Regions from separate parts of the Homo sapiens genome. Here region 1 is linked to region 2. The links come from fine-mapping of genetic effects on gene expression. A gene starts in region 2. The other region holds a variant in brackets. All regions are shown on one strand. Distances are from middle to middle.

Region 1 (4,392 bases), 33 kb after region 2:
GCAGAGGTAGGGGCTGTGAAGGGCCGGGCTGGTTAGAGAGGGTTCAGGAGAGCAGAAGCATTAGCTCAGCAACAGTCTGCAGGGCCGTGCCTTAGGGAGGTCAGACAGGAGCCTGTCAAGTGATTTGAGCAATTCAGAGGGCATCTCTGACTTCTTTTGGAGTCATTTTAATGGAACGGTAGGATATGGAGGAGTGAGGGGGAGGCAAGGAGATGAAGGCAGTGGCCGGGGACTGCTTTCCACGGCACTTTGGTTGGGGAGGGCAGAGCTGGCAGAATTGGAATGAGGTGAAGACCTTGTGGGCGAAGGCAGGAGGGAGGAGGAGCGGAGTGCCTTTGAAGGTGGAGGACTTGCTGCCCCAGCAACCAGCACCAGCAGAGGCCTCCAGATAAACGTCAGCTCCTCCAAGCCTGCCTCACTGCAGGGCATGACTCATCAAGGAGGCTCTTATCTGTGGACAGGATCCTGTGTGTGATGCAAACTCCCTTTGTGAGTGCAGCTCTCCAGACCTGCACTCTGGTGCCAGCCCACACAAGGTCATTGGCAATTTGTTTAAAAAAAAAATAGCTGAATGCTTCCTACACACTTTTGTGTCTCTTCCTGGGTTCTGCCTACTCTCTCCCTGTGGGATCTTTGTTTGGTTACCCTGAGCAATCTCCACCCTCTGGTGGGTTCAAGAGACATATGTTTTGTGGTTTATCTGGTTTTCCTTGTCGTTTTTCACATTCTTTTTAGTGTTCTATATTCTCAGTGCACATGGAACTCATAGCTTGTTTTTTCACTTTGTTGACTTTTGATGAATCAAATTTTAAGTGTGGGCTTGAATTCATATGTATTATAAACTGCTCCGTGTGTTGCTTGGCACGTGGTAGCATGAGAATATCACTAGGATAAGGGTGATAGTTACAATCGGAGTGTGGGTAAGAGCTGGGGAGAGCTTTGGAAAGCCGAGTGTGTGCGTGGCACCAGCTGGGCAGTCCTGATGGTGCCCCGCCAAGGTGGCTGAGGAGCCACATTTGAGATTTCATCTCTTCCCATCTCTCGGGTCCTTCCCAAAACACTAGCCCGTTGGAACCGCTAAGGCACAAGTCCTGTCTCACCTGGAGCCCTTCCCCTGCAGCCACCATCACCACTATATTTAACATCTAACAGAAGCGACCATGTGCACGTGTCTCTTAGCGACAATAACCTTGCTGGTCTGATGTGGAGACACTGTTTTGTGTGGCTTTGTATTCCTTTTAAAAGTAAACTCTCATCCAGGGAAAAAGAAGGCCCCCTGCATTTTAAAAATCACAGTCATTTCTCCTAACTGTCTTTTCAGGCTTTCAGAGTATGGATGCATGCTGGAGATTAAGGACGTGAGAACGTTTCCTGATGGAAGTTCTGTTGTAGACGCGATTGGCATCAGTCGGTTCCGAGTGCTAAGCCACCGCCACAGAGATGGCTATAACACAGCGGACATTGAATATCTTGAAGATGAAAAGGTAAGGCTTATCATACTGGTGTATTTTATAGCAGTCGGTCCTCTCGCTTCCCTTTGCATTGTGGAAAAGCTTTGTCAAACTTGTACTGACAATATTACTTAAGTCCTTAATTCATCACTTAAGTTATTTATTTATCTATTTGTTTATTTTTGAGTCAAGGTCTTGTTCTGTCGTGCAGGCTAGAGTGCAGCAGCATGATCTTGGCCCACTGCAGCCTTGACCTCCCAGGCTCAAACGATCCTCCTGCTTTAGCCTCCCGAGTAGCTGGGACTGTAGGTGCACACCACCACACATGGCTAATTTAAATTTTGTTTGTCGTTGAAACAGAGTCTCCCTGTGTTTCCCAGGCTGGTCTCAAACTCCTGGGCTCAAGCAGTCCTCCCACCTCAACCAAAGTGTAGTAGCCCCAAAGTGCTGTGACTACAGGCATGAGCCCCTGCCTTCAGCAGTTATTTATTTTCTCAGTGGATTTTTACCTGAGTTGGGAGCTGGTACAGAAATCTCCTTTTAAAAAAATGATCTGGCCAGGCATGGTGGCTCACGCCTGTAATCCCAGCACTTTGGGAGGCCAAGGTGGGCAGGTCACGAGGTCAGGAGATTGAGACCATCCTGGCTAATACGGTGAAACCCTGGCTCTATTAAAAATATAAAAAAATTAACCATGTGTGGTGGCGGGCACCTGTAGTCCCAGCTACTTGGGAGGCTGAGGCAGGAGAATTGCTTGAACCTGGGAGCTGAAGGTTGCAGTGAGCTGAGATCGTGCCACTGCACTCCAGCCTGGGCGACAGAGCAAGACTCCATCTCAAAAAAAAAAAAAAAAAAAAAAAGACCTTATTGTACTTATGCAACATGTAAACCTGCGCATTGCAAAATAGGCTTTTGATTTGTATTTGATGCTGTAGCCCTGGAGCTGGCAAACTTTTTCTGTAAAGGGCCGGCTAATAAGTACTTTAGACTCCAGAGGCCATGTGGTCTCTGTCGAAGCTACCCAGTTCTGCCCTTGTAGTGCAAAAGCAGCCATAGACAATGTGTAAAGGCATGAGCATGACTGGTTTCCGTTAAATGTGACTTCCGGAAAC[ATGG/G]TGGTGAGCACGGTTTGACTCATGAACAGCAGTCTGTCAGTCCCTGTTCTCTAGGTTGGTATTAATTCAGAATGTGACAAAATCTACAACTTAAAAAATACCTCCCAAAGCTAAATATAAAAGACTTGAATTTATTAACCCTTAAGAATTTTTTCATGTGTCTAATAGAAATATCAGGACATATAATTTGACAAATTAGCAAAATGTTTTGAGAGATTCTCCAACAGACTTACACAAGGATGTCCATAACAGTCTTACTCCATTATAGCCCCAAACCAGGAACAGCCCAGGTGCTGATCACACTTGAGTCAGTAAACACATTGTGGTCCATTCATGCAATGGAATACTACCTGTCAATAAAAAGAAATGAACCACTCGTGCATGAAACAATATGGATGACTCTCACAGACATTATGCTAAGTGAGAGAAGCCAGACACAGGACGAACACATACCGCGTGGCTTCATCTGTATACTTCCAGGAACAGGCAAAACTAGAGTCTGGGGACAGAAGTCAGAAAAGGCTTGTGGGGTTGGCTTTGTAATTGACTGGAGGGAGTGGTGAAGAATCTTTCTAAGTAGTGGAAATGTCTATCTGGTTTTGGGTGATGGTCAGACTGGTGTATACAGTTGAGAAAACTCTTTGAGCTCAACAAGATCTATGCACTTTTTGGTCTGTAAATTATACTGCAGCAAGAAATTTTAAAATACTTAAAAGGAGGAAATCCTTGGAATTATTGTATCCCTCTTTTAAATTCTTTGGTTGACATTTGGAATTGTGGAAGTGAGGGTACGTAGCCACCCCACATCACACTGGAAGTCATTTTGGGGGCAGTGGTGTACACTTAGGATTTGTGAATGGAGTCACACCCAGGACACTGTCTCTGTGCCTCCTCCAGCTGCTGTTTCTGGTCATCCCAGTGCATGGGAGCAGAGCAGGGAGCCCAGCTCCCAGGCTGGACCAGAAAGCTGGGTTTCAAAGCTACAGCTGAAAGTGATAATTCTCAGGGTCTCTCTGTGGGATGGATAGACCTGACGGCAGGGTTTATTGACCGTTGTTGTAGATGACAGCTTTTAATAGTGTATGCGCTTATTTTAAATGGGGGCTTAAATAGCTACAACATGAAATAATTTTAGCTTATTTTTATAAGAAAATCCTCTATCACATATGAATATTTGATTTGTATAAATCAAATTGAGGGTGGTATATGCATTATATTATAATTTCTCAGCACACCGTAGTTTTTGTAGGTACTGGAATTTTGTAACAGGAAAGGACCTTCATGGTTTATTCCTATTATGCAGATGAGAAAACTCTGCCCTAACGAGGCTGTGAGACTGGCTAGATTCACACATGAGAGTTGGTGATGAAGCCAGACCAAACCCTGGCCCCGTGATTCCCAGTCCCATGCTCTTCCTCCTCTACCAGGTGTTCCTGAACAGGACTGAGGCGTAATTTAAATGACAGATGTGATAGTGACATAGGGACCAGAGGCCAAGCTTGGTCAGTCTAAGGTGCTGTGGCCGACCACAAGCTGGAGTCCATCAGCCCAGGCCAATGTAATGAGTGTAGTCTTGCCCTGTCGTGCCTTTAGGAATATAGTTTGGTGATATGGAATACAATTTTTAAAATGTCACCCTTTGACTTGGTAATTCTGTCAAGGTCTCTAGGAAACTACACTGAGGAAACCATACCTCCCTCCCTTGTCAAAAAAGCAAAACAAAACAAAACAACTTTTCCATAAATGTTTATATTATTGTGTTATTTTTAAAAATAAAAAAGCTAGAATATTCTAAATAACTTACGTGAATAGTTAAGTAAATTGGC
Region 2 (4,392 bases):
AGAAGGAATACTTTTAAATTGGGATTTGTTTTATGGCTCTAAGATGTTCTATATCGGTAAATGTCCCATGTGCACTTGGAAAGAATGTGTATTCTGCTATTGTTGGGTGGAGTGTTCTATAAACATCAATCAGATTGAGTTGGTTTGTAGAATTGCTCAAGTCTTCTATAGCCTCACTGATTTTCAGTATACTTGTATTAATTGTTGAAAGAGGGGTGTTTTATTTTTAAGTTCTGGGGTACACGTGCAGGATGTGAAGGTTTGTTACATAGGTAAACGTGTGCCATGGTGGTTTACTGCACCTATCAAACCATCACCTAGGTTTTAAGCCCCACATGAATTACTTATTTTTCTTCATGCTCTCCCTTCCTCGGTCCCACCGCCGACAGGCCCCAGTGTGTGTTGTTCCCCTCCCTGTGTCCATGTGTTCTCATTGTTCAGTTCCCACTCATAAGTGAGAATATGCAGCATCTGGTTTTCTGTTCCTGTGTTGGTTTGCTGAGGATAACGGCTTCCAGCTCCATCCATGTCCTTACAAAGGACATGATCTTGTTCTTTTTATGGTGAAAAAGGGATATTTAAATATCCAACTATAATTATTAATTTACCTATTTCACCTTACAGTTCTATCAGTTTTTGCTTCAAATATTTGAAAGCTCTGTTATTGGGAACACACGCGGTTAGGACTATTATGTCCTCTTGACCAACTAACACCTTTATCATTATGAAATGGCTGTCCTTTCTCCTAGCAATGTTCTTGGCTATGTAATAGACTTTGTCAGCTATCAATATAGTCACTCTAGATTTATTTTGCTTAGAGTTAACTAGAACATCTTTTTCCATCCTTTTACCTTTACCTTATTTGTATTTTCATATTTAAAAGTTCTTTTTTGGTAGGCAGCATATATCTGGGTCTTCCTTTTGACAATCTTTGCCTTTTAATTATGGTATTTAGACAATATTTAATGAACATTAACCGATATAATTGGGTTTAAACCTGCCATCTTGCTATTTGTTCTCTATTTGTTTTATCTAATTGTTTCCTTCCTCTCTTTTTATGCCTTCTTTTGGATTAATAGAGTTTTTTTTAACAATTTCATTTCATCTCTATAGGCTTTTAAACTATAGCTCTTTGTGTTATTTAGGAGGTTGCTTTAGGGTTAGAGGACACATCCTTAACTCATTACAGTCTTTCTTAAAGTGACATTATACCATTTCACATATAGCATTAGAACCTTACAACAGTATCCTGCCATTTCTCCTCTACCTGCCTTTGTGTTATATTTGTGATATATTTTATTTCTATGTGTTATAAACCTCACAACACACTAACATTTTTGCTTTAAACACTTCTGGCTCTCAGCAGGCATACCTCCGGCAAGCTTCTTTCTGTTCTCTTGCTAGATATTTGTCTAAAATAAGAACAAATAGGATCTGAGATCATAAGGTTTCACAATCTTTACTGTATGGTCTGTGCTCTGAAGCTTTTTCCCCATTGCTTCCTGATTGTTGGTTGTGAATTTGATGGATAAATGACCCTCAAATATAAGTGAATTGTTATTCTATAAAGAAAGCAGATAAAAATCCAAACAGTGATTGAAAAAGTGAATTTGAAATAATTCAGTAATGAAAAAGAGACCCAAACAGTACACTGTTATCAATTAAGTTAGGTAGACAGCTGGGGGAAATCCTTCATGGAAAAGGAGGTGGGTACTCTGCATTTGTTTATTGTAGAACTAGAGGGCTGGCCAAAAATTGCCCCTTTTTCCCTTTTAGGAACTGGTCTAAAATGTTCTCTCACTTAATGAGGCATTTCTCCTTTCCCAAAGCCAGATGTGGTCGAGGTATTGTATATTTTCTTTAGCCAGCAGTTTTAGATGTAGAAAAACCTCTCCAATTTTTTAAAAAAATTTATTCTTGAAATATGAACAGTAGTATGAATTCTAGAATATTGTAATGCATTTTATTGTATTCAAATACACAGGATAAAACAGATACTGTGACGACAGGAAGAAGGGAGCAGGCTACATAGGAGAAATACATAGGCTATATAGGAGAAATTATGAACCCGGTTAATACGCACAGAGGATTTTAATTTAAACCTTGCTTGTACACCAACGGAGCGTTTAGCTCCCTCTCCCCAGCAACTTATGTCTGCAGTACTCCATACTAGGGCACCCTTTCTATTTCTATTCTAATTCTATTAATTAGAATTCTATTTCTAATTCTATTTCTGCTTCCTAATCAAGGGCACAATACAATTGTCCACTTCTCGAATCCCTCCTCCTCCTGGTATCTGGTTCTCTTGGCCCTCCACGTTCTCTGTTAAAATGAGTTCTCAAAGGCCTCAGCCTAGAGTTAAGAGAAGAAGCTCGCTGAGGCGGGGCCTCTGGGTGCCCACTTCAGCCTCCCCAGTCATTTAGGACAATTTCCTAAGTCGAAGCTAGAGATGCGTGATGCGTTTGGTGACTTTTCCTGGGTTCTTGCTTAAGCGGAGCCACAGGTTGTGGGGGCGGCCAGGCCTCTGGGGAAGAGCAGGTGCCGCGGTGCCGGCGCGCCAGCAGCCCGCGGCCAAGGCCACCTGCTCCCAGGGCCCCGGCACCTCTGCGGGGAGGCGGCAGGCAGAGGACGCGCGCGCAGTCGCGCAGGAGCCCTCAGGCGAGTGGGGGAAGCATCGCAAGAGACGCGGACCTGGAGCGCGGTCACTGCGTTACCGCAGCGACCTGGGTTACCTAAGCCGGCGGGACTGAGAGGCCGCTGCGCGTGGGCAGGGGCTCAGATTGCGCCCGCGGTGCCTGTCCCGGCCCCCACCCCGGAACGATTGCAGCCCTGCGGGGCTCGCCGCCCACACCGCGCTGAGGACGCTGCCCAAGCCAGGCGCCCGCCCCCGCCCGCGGTCTCAGCCGCTCGCAGCGCGCCGCCCCCAGACGCGCGTGGCTGCTGGCGAGGGCTGAGACCGCGCTCCCGCCGGCCAGTTCCCAGCAGCAGCGCATCCTCCCTGCTCCGCGCCTTCGCTCCGGACCCGCGTCGTCGCAGCCCCGCGGTGATGAGCCCCGAGCCGGTCCCGCCGCCGCCGCCGCCCCAGTGTCCTGGCTGCGACCGCGCGGAGCCGATCGCCCAGCGCTTAGAGGAGGGCGACGAGGCCTTCCGCGCGGGCGACTACGAGATGGCAGCCGAGCTCTTTCGCTCCATGCTAGCCGGGCTGGCGCAGCCGGACCGCGGCCTGTGCCTGAGGCTGGGGGACGCGCTGGCCCGCGCCGGCCGCCTCCCCGAAGCCCTGGGCGCGTTCCGCGGCGCCGCGCGGCTCGGGGCGCTGCGGCCGGAGGAGCTGGAAGAGCTGGCGGGCGGCCTGGTGCGCGCCGTGGGCCTGCGCGACCGGCCGCTGTCCGCGGAGAACCCGGGCGGCGAGCCCGAGGCGCCCGGCGAGGGAGGGCCGGCCCCGGAGCCCCGCGCGCCCCGCGACCTGCTCGGCTGCCCGCGCTGCCGGCGGCTGCTGCATAAGCCGGTGACGCTGCCCTGCGGGCTCACAGTCTGCAAGCGCTGCGTGGAGCCAGGGCCCGCGCGGCCGCAGGTGCGGCGCGTGAACGTGGTGCTGAGCGGCCTGCTGGAGAAGTGCTTCCCGGCCGAGTGCCGGCTGCGCAGGCTGGCAGGCCAGGCGCGGAGCCTGCAGCGCCAGCAGCAGCCGGAGGCCGCGCTGCTCAGGTGCGACCAGGCCCTGGAGCTGGGTGAGTCGGCTGCGGGGCGGGTCCGCCTCCCCTACACCTGTCCGGCCCAGCAGCGGGGTGGGGAGCTGGCCGGTGGGCCCGAGGCTTTGGGCTTTCGAGAGCTTTGTCTAGGCTTAGGGGTCACTTTGCTTCCTAAGGATGGGAAGGTGAAAGGTGGGGGCGGCCACACCCTGCAGCCAGGAGAGGCCAAGTGCACCCCACTGGTTTTGTCTTTTCCAGGATGCTGGTAAGTTTCCCGCGGCCCCCGGAGCAGCTCTGTAAGGTCCTGTAATTGCTTTTCGGCATCTTCTGCGCTGTTGAGGAGCGGGGAGGATGACGAAATATTTTTGCTCATCCTGAAGGAAAATGCACATAGCTGACACACTACAGGCGCAGAAAGGGGTGCCTTGTGCTGGGGCAAGATTTGCTTTGGGTTTCAGCTAATATAGCCAGGAAGGAACCGCCTCCACTCTGCTGTAATCACGTCAAACGCTCCGGCTCTAGCCTGCTCTCTGTCTCAGAGGCCATCATTAGATGTCATGGCGTATTTAACTTACTAGATAGTTACACTGACTAGTGTGTGTAGTTTTAAATTGTTCATTCAGTCATTTCCTTATTTATCTGAGGCCTAAGGCCAGCAACAGGCACTCTCCTGCCTTCACCCAGCCACCACCTGTTAACACTATTT

Evidence for each region.
Region 1: its variant is fine-mapped to the expression of LONRF2 in blood mononuclear cells (TOPMed, PIP above 0.99). The same link has a PIP of 0.9 or more in T cells.

Annotation. Positions count from the first base shown.
Region 1 is chr2:100,287,350-100,291,741 of GRCh38, reverse strand. LONRF2 (LON peptidase N-terminal domain and ring finger 2) reads left to right here. Exons shown (of 12, transcript NM_198461.4): 10 at 1,322-1,484. Among named protein-coding and RNA genes, the nearest start is that of LONRF2, 33 kb to the left of the region's middle. RefSeq lists an enhancer at 171-811. The variant ATGG/G (reference allele first, on the strand shown) is at 2,564.
Region 2 is chr2:100,320,748-100,325,139 of GRCh38, reverse strand. It overlaps LONRF2 (LON peptidase N-terminal domain and ring finger 2), which reads left to right and starts at 2,639. Exons shown (of 12, transcript NM_198461.4): 1 at 2,639-3,725. The coding sequence starts at 3,047.